Regions from separate parts of the Homo sapiens genome. Here region 2 is linked to region 1. The links come from fine-mapping of genetic effects on gene expression. A gene starts in region 1. The other region holds a variant in brackets. All regions are shown on one strand. Distances are between the middles of the regions.

Region 1 (4,411 bases):
AGTTTCTTTCTCCGAAAATATTTTCTATCTGATTCTTTACAGAAAAAGTTTGTCCACCCCTGGTTAATATCATTCAGATTTCAGATCACTGTTCATATATTTGAATTTAAGAATATATTGACAGTTTGCTATGTTCCACTTCTTTTTTTCCTCCTTTTCCTTCTATTGGGCTAATCAAACATTTTTTATTATTTCATTTAATCTTCATTGTTGATTTATTATGTATACCACTTTTTAAAAGAAATATTTAGTGGTTATACCAGGGTTACAATATTTTTCTTAATTAATCAGAGTCTATCCTTCAAGTAATATTATCCCAATTCACACATGGTATAAAGACTTCAAGATAGTTTTTCCAACTTCCTAGTTTTCATTCTTTGTGCTTATGTTGTTATACATATACACTATAAACACACAGTGTTAGAGATCAAAATGAAAGGAATCTTGGATTCAGCCCTGTTTCAAAGCTCATCAGATGACCTGCACAAATCATTCAAACTTTCTTTTGTACTCTTGGTTCTTTAAGTCAAGCATATCTATTGTGCCTACCTCATAAACAGACTCCAGGTTAACATTAGATTTCAAAATCTATGTGACCAAACCAAATTAAAATCTATAAATCTATATGTCTCAGAGTAGACTGTGAACTTGGGTGGTTGCTGGCATCAGTCCTCTAAGGAACAGCCAAACCAAACCCACTGCAAATACTTTTTTCTTATTATAGGCTCCTCAGTGAAAAATTTAACAATCCTACACCCAGTTTTATAATGTTAAAACAGCTTTTCCAAAGGTCATCAAGTAAAGACATAAAGAAGTATTGTTAAGGTGAATTTGGTAGAACAGGATCAAAGATGTTGGAAGAATTTCAAGATCTGAAACAAGTAGACCAGTTGTGAAACTGGTCTTGATTCCATCTTTTTAAAAACATAAGACTGGAAAGATTGATGGGCATGCTTAAATAAGATGGAAAGATGATGGGCATGCCCTCCTGTGTAGGGCAGCAGTAATCAACCCATGGACGGAGCCACAGGGCCAGCAGCTACTGCTTCCTGTGGGCACTGGTGCAGCTGTCTGGGTGCCTGCTCTTTCCAGCACTGTTTTCATCAGATCAAGAATACAAATCCCAGATGGATTCAAACCCATGACTACAAGCTGTCACTCTGTTAGTCTCAGATGCAATTAATATTATTGTCTTCCCTATGTTATATTTGAAGTTCTTTTAGTTCAATTCAGCAAATTGTATTGAAACCTACTATGTATGAGATAATACGCACTTGAATCCTGCCAACTGGGTCTTGATGATAACGCTAGATGGAAACTAGAAAGTTTGACTTTCTGTTGATGATTACTCTCAATCATTCAAACTTGTGGCTCTTTTTCTCATCAGTTATTTATTGTAACTATAATATTTATCAAATTGTATTAACTAAATACAATTATTTATCAAACACTCTTTTTCTCATCAGTTATTTATTGTAACTAGAATTAGACTTATAAAACTTCAGGAATTTGAAATCATATAACCTACTATGCAGAGCACTTCATTTCTCCTTCCTACCTCTGCTTGAGCTAATAACTACAGTTTGTGATCCAGGCCCCTCCTTAAGGTGGAGCTGACGTGGCTGACACTTCTGTCTTAGCTGAAACAAGCAGAAGGTTGTGAATCCATGCTAAAGGTAAACAAACTGCAACTTATATCTGCAATTTATTTTGGTATAGACAAGAGGTATGCCAGTAGCACACTGGTGGCTTCAGAAGAAATTCTCAACACCTAGCTCGCCAGAGAGTCTATGTATGGGATTGAACAATCTGTAAACTAAAGGTATGAAAAAATTTGTAAAATTGGGAAGGTGAGGGAAAGGTGTGACATTTATTTTTGGGTGCAGAAACATCTAATGCCCATGTATAAACTAGGGATCTGGGGTGAAAGGTGCTTCTAGGGGAGGGTAAATTTTGAGGGATGGAAAGTTTTAGAAAGGCAGCATTCAAGCAATCTGATGTTAAAGTTTAAAGTTCCAAGTTAAAAGAGAACTTGGAATTCCGGTGCAAAGAGAAATGTTAAGATGAATCATGGAAAAATACTGATAAAGCCTGAAATTTTTTTAAGTAAGAAATGTTTTAAAATAATTCTTTTCAAGCTTGAGGGGGTGCTAGAAAGCCTGCTAAAACAGAAAAGGAGGACATATTAATAGATTGGCATTAATGAAACAGAAAAACTAATTTGCATTCAACAGGCACTGTAATGATGTGGTTCTCAGTGTTAATATTTGCTGGAGTATTTTGTGTCTGCCCTTGAGTTTAAGGGAATAGAACAGGGAACCTGATAGGTGACAAATAGTCTGGAGACTTCATCTAGACACGAGCAAGCTTGCATCCTTCAGGCCCTTAAGCTGCTCGATTTCTTAAAGATCACAGTGGGCTCCATGAATTATCTGTTCTGTAGAATGTACAAGCAGATAGCTAAAAGAGAGCACCTGGGAGATACCAAGTACAGCTTGCGGGGGTGAAGGTTTATTTCTGGGAGTTATTTATCTGAGGCTAAAAAGTAATCATGAGCCAAAAAAATTTCAAATGTTTCCCATGTTTGTTTGCTTTTCTGTTTTGTTGTATGTTTTTGTGCTTGTTTTTGTATTGTCTCTTGTAGGATCCTAATCATGAAAATAAGTATGATAAATTATAAGTCACTATTGGCACTGTTGTTTATATTAGCCTCCTGGATCATTTTTACAGTTTTCCAGAACTCCACAAAGGTAGGAAATGCTTTATTTATGTGGTTTACAGAAGCTTATTTTTGCTTATTACCTCATCTGTTCTAGGAAAGGCTAAACTACAAGACTTGTAGATTATAGGAGGGGAGTTTGAATAGCTAGATACCAAACAACATACCTGATAATCATTAAGCAATATGTGAGAGGATAAATACTGTGTGTGTGTTCACACATACACATTCTTTCTTTGTCACAAATAAATGCATTGCACCTATCTTCTTCAATGCTTAGCTCATCTTTTTACTTTCTTTAAGGGAACATCTGAAGAACAGAATATCTATATTTTTGGTTTTCATTTGTTTGTTTTTAATTTTTAATTTTTGTGGGTACAAAGTAGGTGTATGTATTTATGGGGTAGATGAGATATTTTGATACAAGCATATAATACATAGTAATCATATCAGGGTAAATGGGGTATTCATTGCCTCAAGAATTTATCCTTTCTTGTGCTACAAACAAGACAATTATACTCTTTTAGCTATTTTTAAATGTAAAATAAATTATTGGTGATTGTAGTTACCCTGTTATACTATCAAATGCTAGATCTTATTCATTCTGTCTAATCATATTTTTGTACTCATTAACTAACCCCACTTCTCCTCCATGCCCCCACCACCCTTCCCAGCCTCTGGTAGCCATCATTCTACTCTCTAACTCCATGACTTCAATTATTTTAAGTATTAACTTCCACAAATAAAAACGAACATGCAAAGTTTGTCTTCTGTGCCTAGCTTATTTCACTTAACATAATGACCTTCAGTTCCATCCATGTTGTTGCAAATGACAGAATCTTGTTCTTTTTATAACTGAATACTACTCCGTTGTGTATATATACCATATTTTCTTTATGTATTTGTCTGTTGATGGACACTTAGGTTGCTTACAAATCTTGGCTATTGTTATCAGTGCTGCAATAAACATGGGAGTTCAGATAGCTCTTGGATATACTGATTTCCTTTATTTTGGGTATATACCTAGCAGTGGGATTGCTGGATCATATGGTAGCCTATTTTTAGTTTTTTGAGAAACCTCCAAACTGTTCTCTATAGTGGTTGTACTAATTACATTCCCACCAACAGTGTACAAGTGTTCCCTTTTCTCCACATCCTCACTAGCATATGTTACTATCTGTCTTTTGGATAAAAGCCATTTTAACAGGAGTGAGATTATATTACACTGTAGTTTTGATTTGTGTTTCTCTGATGATCAATGATGTTGAGCACCTTTTCATATACTTGTTTGCCATTTGCATATCTTCTAGTAAGTGTCTATTCAGATCTTTTGCCCAATTTTTAATTGGATTGTTAAATATTTTTGCTATAGAGTTGGTTGAGTTCCTTGAATACTCTGGATAGTAATCCCCTGTCAGATGGATAGTTTGCAAACATTTTCTCCCATTCTGTAGGTTAACTCTTCACTCACTTGATTGCTTCCTTTGCTGTGAAGAAGTTTTTAGTTTTATATAATCCCATTTGTCTATCTTTGCTTTTCTTCTCTGTGCATTTGAGGTCTTATCCAAAAATCCTCTGGCTACATCAGTGTCCTGAACAGTATTCCCTAGGTTTTCTTCTAGTATTTTCATACTTTGGGTCATGCATATCAGTCTTTAATTCATTTTGTAACTGAGTTTTGTATATGGTGAG
Region 2 (4,411 bases), 110 kb before region 1:
TCATTCCAATCTGGCAGTTCTTTTTTATGTTCTCGCTCTCTGGCAATACAAATTTCCAGATTAAGTAATTTTTATTACCACAAATTATTTTGGAAAAATGTTTCTCATTTTTGCCTTCCTTTTCCTCTTTTTCCTCCCCCTTTCTCTTCAGCTCTATTTTGCCTTCCTCTCTTCCACAAATATTTATTTAATAAGATCATGTTAAAAGGGTGAATTAAATAGCTTTTCTTGAATAGTTTTTCTTGGAGTGGGGATCTGTTGACTCTTGTGCATTTGCAATGTGTCCCTGGGCTCCACCTTGTCCCCAGAGCCACGCTGCTGTGGAACAGCCAGCCAGAGTCAGGAGGAAATGTGTGGCCGTGAAATAGCAGGGCACAGTGGCCCTGCCAAATATTACACCAATGACATTGGCCTCGCTGAATTGTAAATCTCATCTTCCTCAAACTACTAATCCAGGAAAAGAAGCTTGAATGTGTTTATGAAATGAGTGTGTCACATTGTTTATTTTGTGTGTCCCAGAATCATCTTCTCTGGCTAATACTTTTTTTAAAATCCTTAAATCTTAATTGTCATGTCTAGAACTGAATGTAATATTCTCAGTGTGATCTGACACAGAAAAAAGTAGGATCATGACCTCCCTGTTCTGAACACTCCTCTATTAAAATAGCCTAAACTGTATTTACTGACTCCTATTGAGTTTTCCCCCAGGTAAGTTTCTGAGGCCACTTCTATATTCACCACTTAAAATGCACATCTTCTTTGTCATCTACCTGCATTGTTGGGATATGGGGTACACATTGAGGAACTTACATTTGTTCGTATTGAATAACATCAGATTTGTAAGTGGCTCCAAAAATTACAGTCTGGTACTATCTTCCAAGAAACTGCCTGACTTTACTAGAAATTACTGTCCAGGCAAGAGGGAAATAAAAGAGGTGTTACAAACATTCAAATTGCCTCAAGAATCTAAGAACTTTCTTCAGTGTAAAAGTTGGGTGTGAATGATAGTTGCCCTAGCAGAGAAGGGATCTGTCTTCTTCATAGATTGTGAACTTTACATCTGGGTTCATGATTTATTTGTGTTTATGTTCTCCACAGGGTTTAGCAAATTTCTTTGTACAGTAGGACCTCAGTAAACACTTGCTAAATGCATGAAAAAGGGGTGATGAGTAATGGTACACCCCGTTGATTGTTATAATGGAAGTCCTTTGCTTTACTTTAATTTTGAAATTCACTTCATTTCCCGTGTAGCAGAATCATCACTTCTATGAGTGAAATGGTTTTGTGTTGACCACTAAAGTTCATATGATTAAACTGAGAAAAAATTCACAGAAATTCTAGTTCATAGAACTTCAAGTAAGATGGCTTGGCTAAATGAGAAATTAGAAACCACCAAAGAAATGTCCTAACTCTGAATCTGTGCAGCTCATCTGAGACATTTTTCACATAGCACCAGCACCTGATCATTGGCTCTGGAGGAATAAATCTAAATTTAAATACAAATAGCCTGTACATTTTGAGGCAGTGCCACTGAAGTTAATGGTTTCCCTAGCCTTTTATATCTGACTTGGGATGAAAATTGGTTTAAATCGATATGAAAATAATTTCCAAGAATAAAATCCCTTCTCTAAAACCCAAGGTGGTTGATGTAATTTGTCCCAGGAAATGAGAGATCAAATCGTTAATGTGGAATAAATATCTCTAAGTAAGCATGTCCTTTCC[G/A]TGGATAAATTGTGATCATGGCAGACAACAACACTCCAGACTTACTGTTGCATGGTATGACCTCAATGGGGGTAAAGTTCTTCATCATTTCAACTCCTATGTTGGACCTGCAAGAAATGGGAAAATAAATTAGCTTAATATCTGCCCAGATAATAAAGTAGGAATCACTGGTTTAGATGGATTAAACCTCTCTTCTCCAAATGCCTTTCCCCCCTTATTTTGATATATTTAAGATATCCTGGGGAAGTTAATGGGTCAGGATTCTGGAAAGCTGTTCCTCTCCTAATGGCAGGGAATCTAGAGATCCAGAGAAAGTCATTCACCCTCCATACGCAATCCATCAAATCTATCTAACATCTATCTATCTATCTGTCTGTCTGTCTATCTATCTATCTATCATCTATCTATCTATCTATCTATCTATCTATCTATCTATCTATCTATGCTTATTTTAATTTTACCTTCTAAATGGCTCTCTACCACAAACTACCCTCTCCACATTTCCACCTGTAGTAATTCAGGCCCTCATCAACCCTTTCCAAGGCTAGTGTTTCTCAAACTTGAGCGTGCATCAGAATTACCTGCAGTACTTTATTACAACTCCAATTGCTGAGCCTCACACCCAGAATTTCTGATTCAACAGTTATGGGGTAAATTCTCAAGAATTTGGATTTCTATAATAACAAGCTCTTGGGCTAACCCAAAGCCAATGGTCTACGGACATTACTTTGAGAACCCTGTCCTAAGTTATTATAATACTATCTTTCTGCCCTTTTGGTTTATCCCACCTAAATACAAACCCTATGCTACCTGTTTTATTCCCCTATGTAAAACTTTCCCATGACTTTCTGTCCTCAACCTACAGAAAAAGCTCCCTAACTGGTATAAAAATCTCCTATGAGTGTCTACATTGCCAGCTTCATCTTCATCTACTCTTCACCTTCTTGAGTTCCCAGGAGTCTATTTTTCATAGTCTGTTATCTCCCTCAGATAGGAATCAAGTCAATATTATTCAGTATAATATTTCGAGTGCCAGCACAGTGAGCTTCGTCTCAAGGTATCAGTCCCAATGACTATGGTGACTATGTCCAGCCAAATTGAATTCACTCTATCGGAATGAAATCCATCTGGGGGAAGGTAGGCCCTTTCAGAGCCAGAGCCACAGAAACCTTCAAAAGGGATAGAGAAAGCCCTTTCTAAGATTGAGAAGAATTGCCTGAATCTCAGGAAATGAGTTTTTGGGTCAAGTGAGGATAATATCCCCTTCATCAAGAAGGCCAGAGGACTGAAGAGAGGTCAGGGTGGCTGGGCGTGATGGCTGCATGGAGTGGTGGAGTCATGGGAGACAGCACTATGGCCCATTGACTTTAGAATAAGATCGACTGGGAATCCCGTTCTGACTCTGCAATTCAACTGGATATGTGACTTTGGCCAACCTATTTAATATGCCTAAATTTTCTCATCTTCAAAATGAGCATAATAATAGTCACTCCAGAGTATTTTACTGAGGATAAATGGTATAATACAAGGGAGGCATCTAACATAAATGTTGGCATATAGTAGGTGCTCAACAAATCATTGCAATTATTATTACTGAGGATCCCATCAGACCTATTTTTGGCACAAGAGTAAGATTTGTCTTTAAGAAATTTAATCTGACCAAACCTCTATTCTCCCATACCTTTCTCAGGTAAGGCTGAGGATAACAAAAGAGATTGAGACCCGGCTACCTTGTAAATTTGGTTACCAAAGAAAAATTTGATGCTACATTAAAATTAGGATTAAAACCATGTATTAATGTTATAAAGGAATTCATTTTAATGTCTCCTGTTTTTGTAATTGTGTATGTGCATTAAATTTTAAAAAGGGGTCTATAATTAATTAGACCATAATAGAAACTAACAGAATAGTGAACAACTGTGTTACCTATGTGATGTCTTCTCCTATGGTAACTCCTCATTTATGTTTTTATCACGATTATCCACAAAACTCTTAAAAAGAAGAAGACTTTTTTAATTTGAAGAAATAAATATCCTAGGAAGTAACATTTCTGATTCTTCAGCCAAGGTTGAGGGAGAGAACCCAGGTGGGAAAATATATTTACAGTCATCCCTCAGTATATGTGGGAGATTGGTTCCAGGACCCCCACCACATCTACAAAAATCAGCATATGCTTAAGTCCTGCATTCAGCCCCACGGAACCCAAGTATGTGAAAAGTCAGCTCTCCATATATTAGGTTTTGCATCCTGTGAATATTATATTTTTGATCCACATTTGATTGAAAATGCTTTGAATATAAGTGGATTTGTGCAGTTCAAATCTGGGTTGTTCAAGGGTTAACGGTACTATGTTACAAATGAAACAGAAACTGGCTTAGTCCCTGTATTCGTGAGAAGGAAAGATGTCAAAGAATTGGGCTTGGGTCTAGGAAGGGACCCTAGAGCTTAGCAATAGAATGGTCCATGAGACTTCTTGGATGTGTAATCAGCTGTTCCTTGCACATGCACTACATCACCTGTAGGGAGACTGAAATCTCTATTTCCATGCAGTAGGAGAAAAAAACTTAATAGCTTGAATAGAGCAGGGGATCTGGGAAGGACTTATGTCTATTTGGAAATAAAGCAGCTTACTATCATGATTACTGTCATGAGCACAGCCCCCTTGAGAAGCCTGATTAGGACCCAAAGT

Evidence for each region. PIP is the estimated chance that this variant, and not a neighbour inherited with it, causes the effect.
Region 2: its variant is the best candidate, but not a certain one, in a credible set for the expression of NXPE4 in lung (TOPMed, PIP 0.83).

The regions. Positions count from the first base shown.
Region 1 is chr11:114,593,003-114,597,413 of GRCh38, reverse strand. It overlaps NXPE4 (neurexophilin and PC-esterase domain family member 4), which reads left to right and starts at 1,628. Exons shown (of 6, transcript NM_001077639.2): 1 at 1,628-1,822; 2 at 2,645-2,750. The coding sequence starts at 2,655. It also overlaps a transcript of NXPE2 not described here.
Region 2 is chr11:114,701,409-114,705,819 of GRCh38, reverse strand. NXPE2 (neurexophilin and PC-esterase domain family member 2) reads right to left here. Exons shown (of 6, transcript NM_182495.6): 4 at 1,768-1,829; 5 at 1-39. Among named protein-coding and RNA genes, the nearest start is that of NXPE2, 25 kb to the right of the region's middle. The variant G/A (reference allele first, on the strand shown) is at 1,723.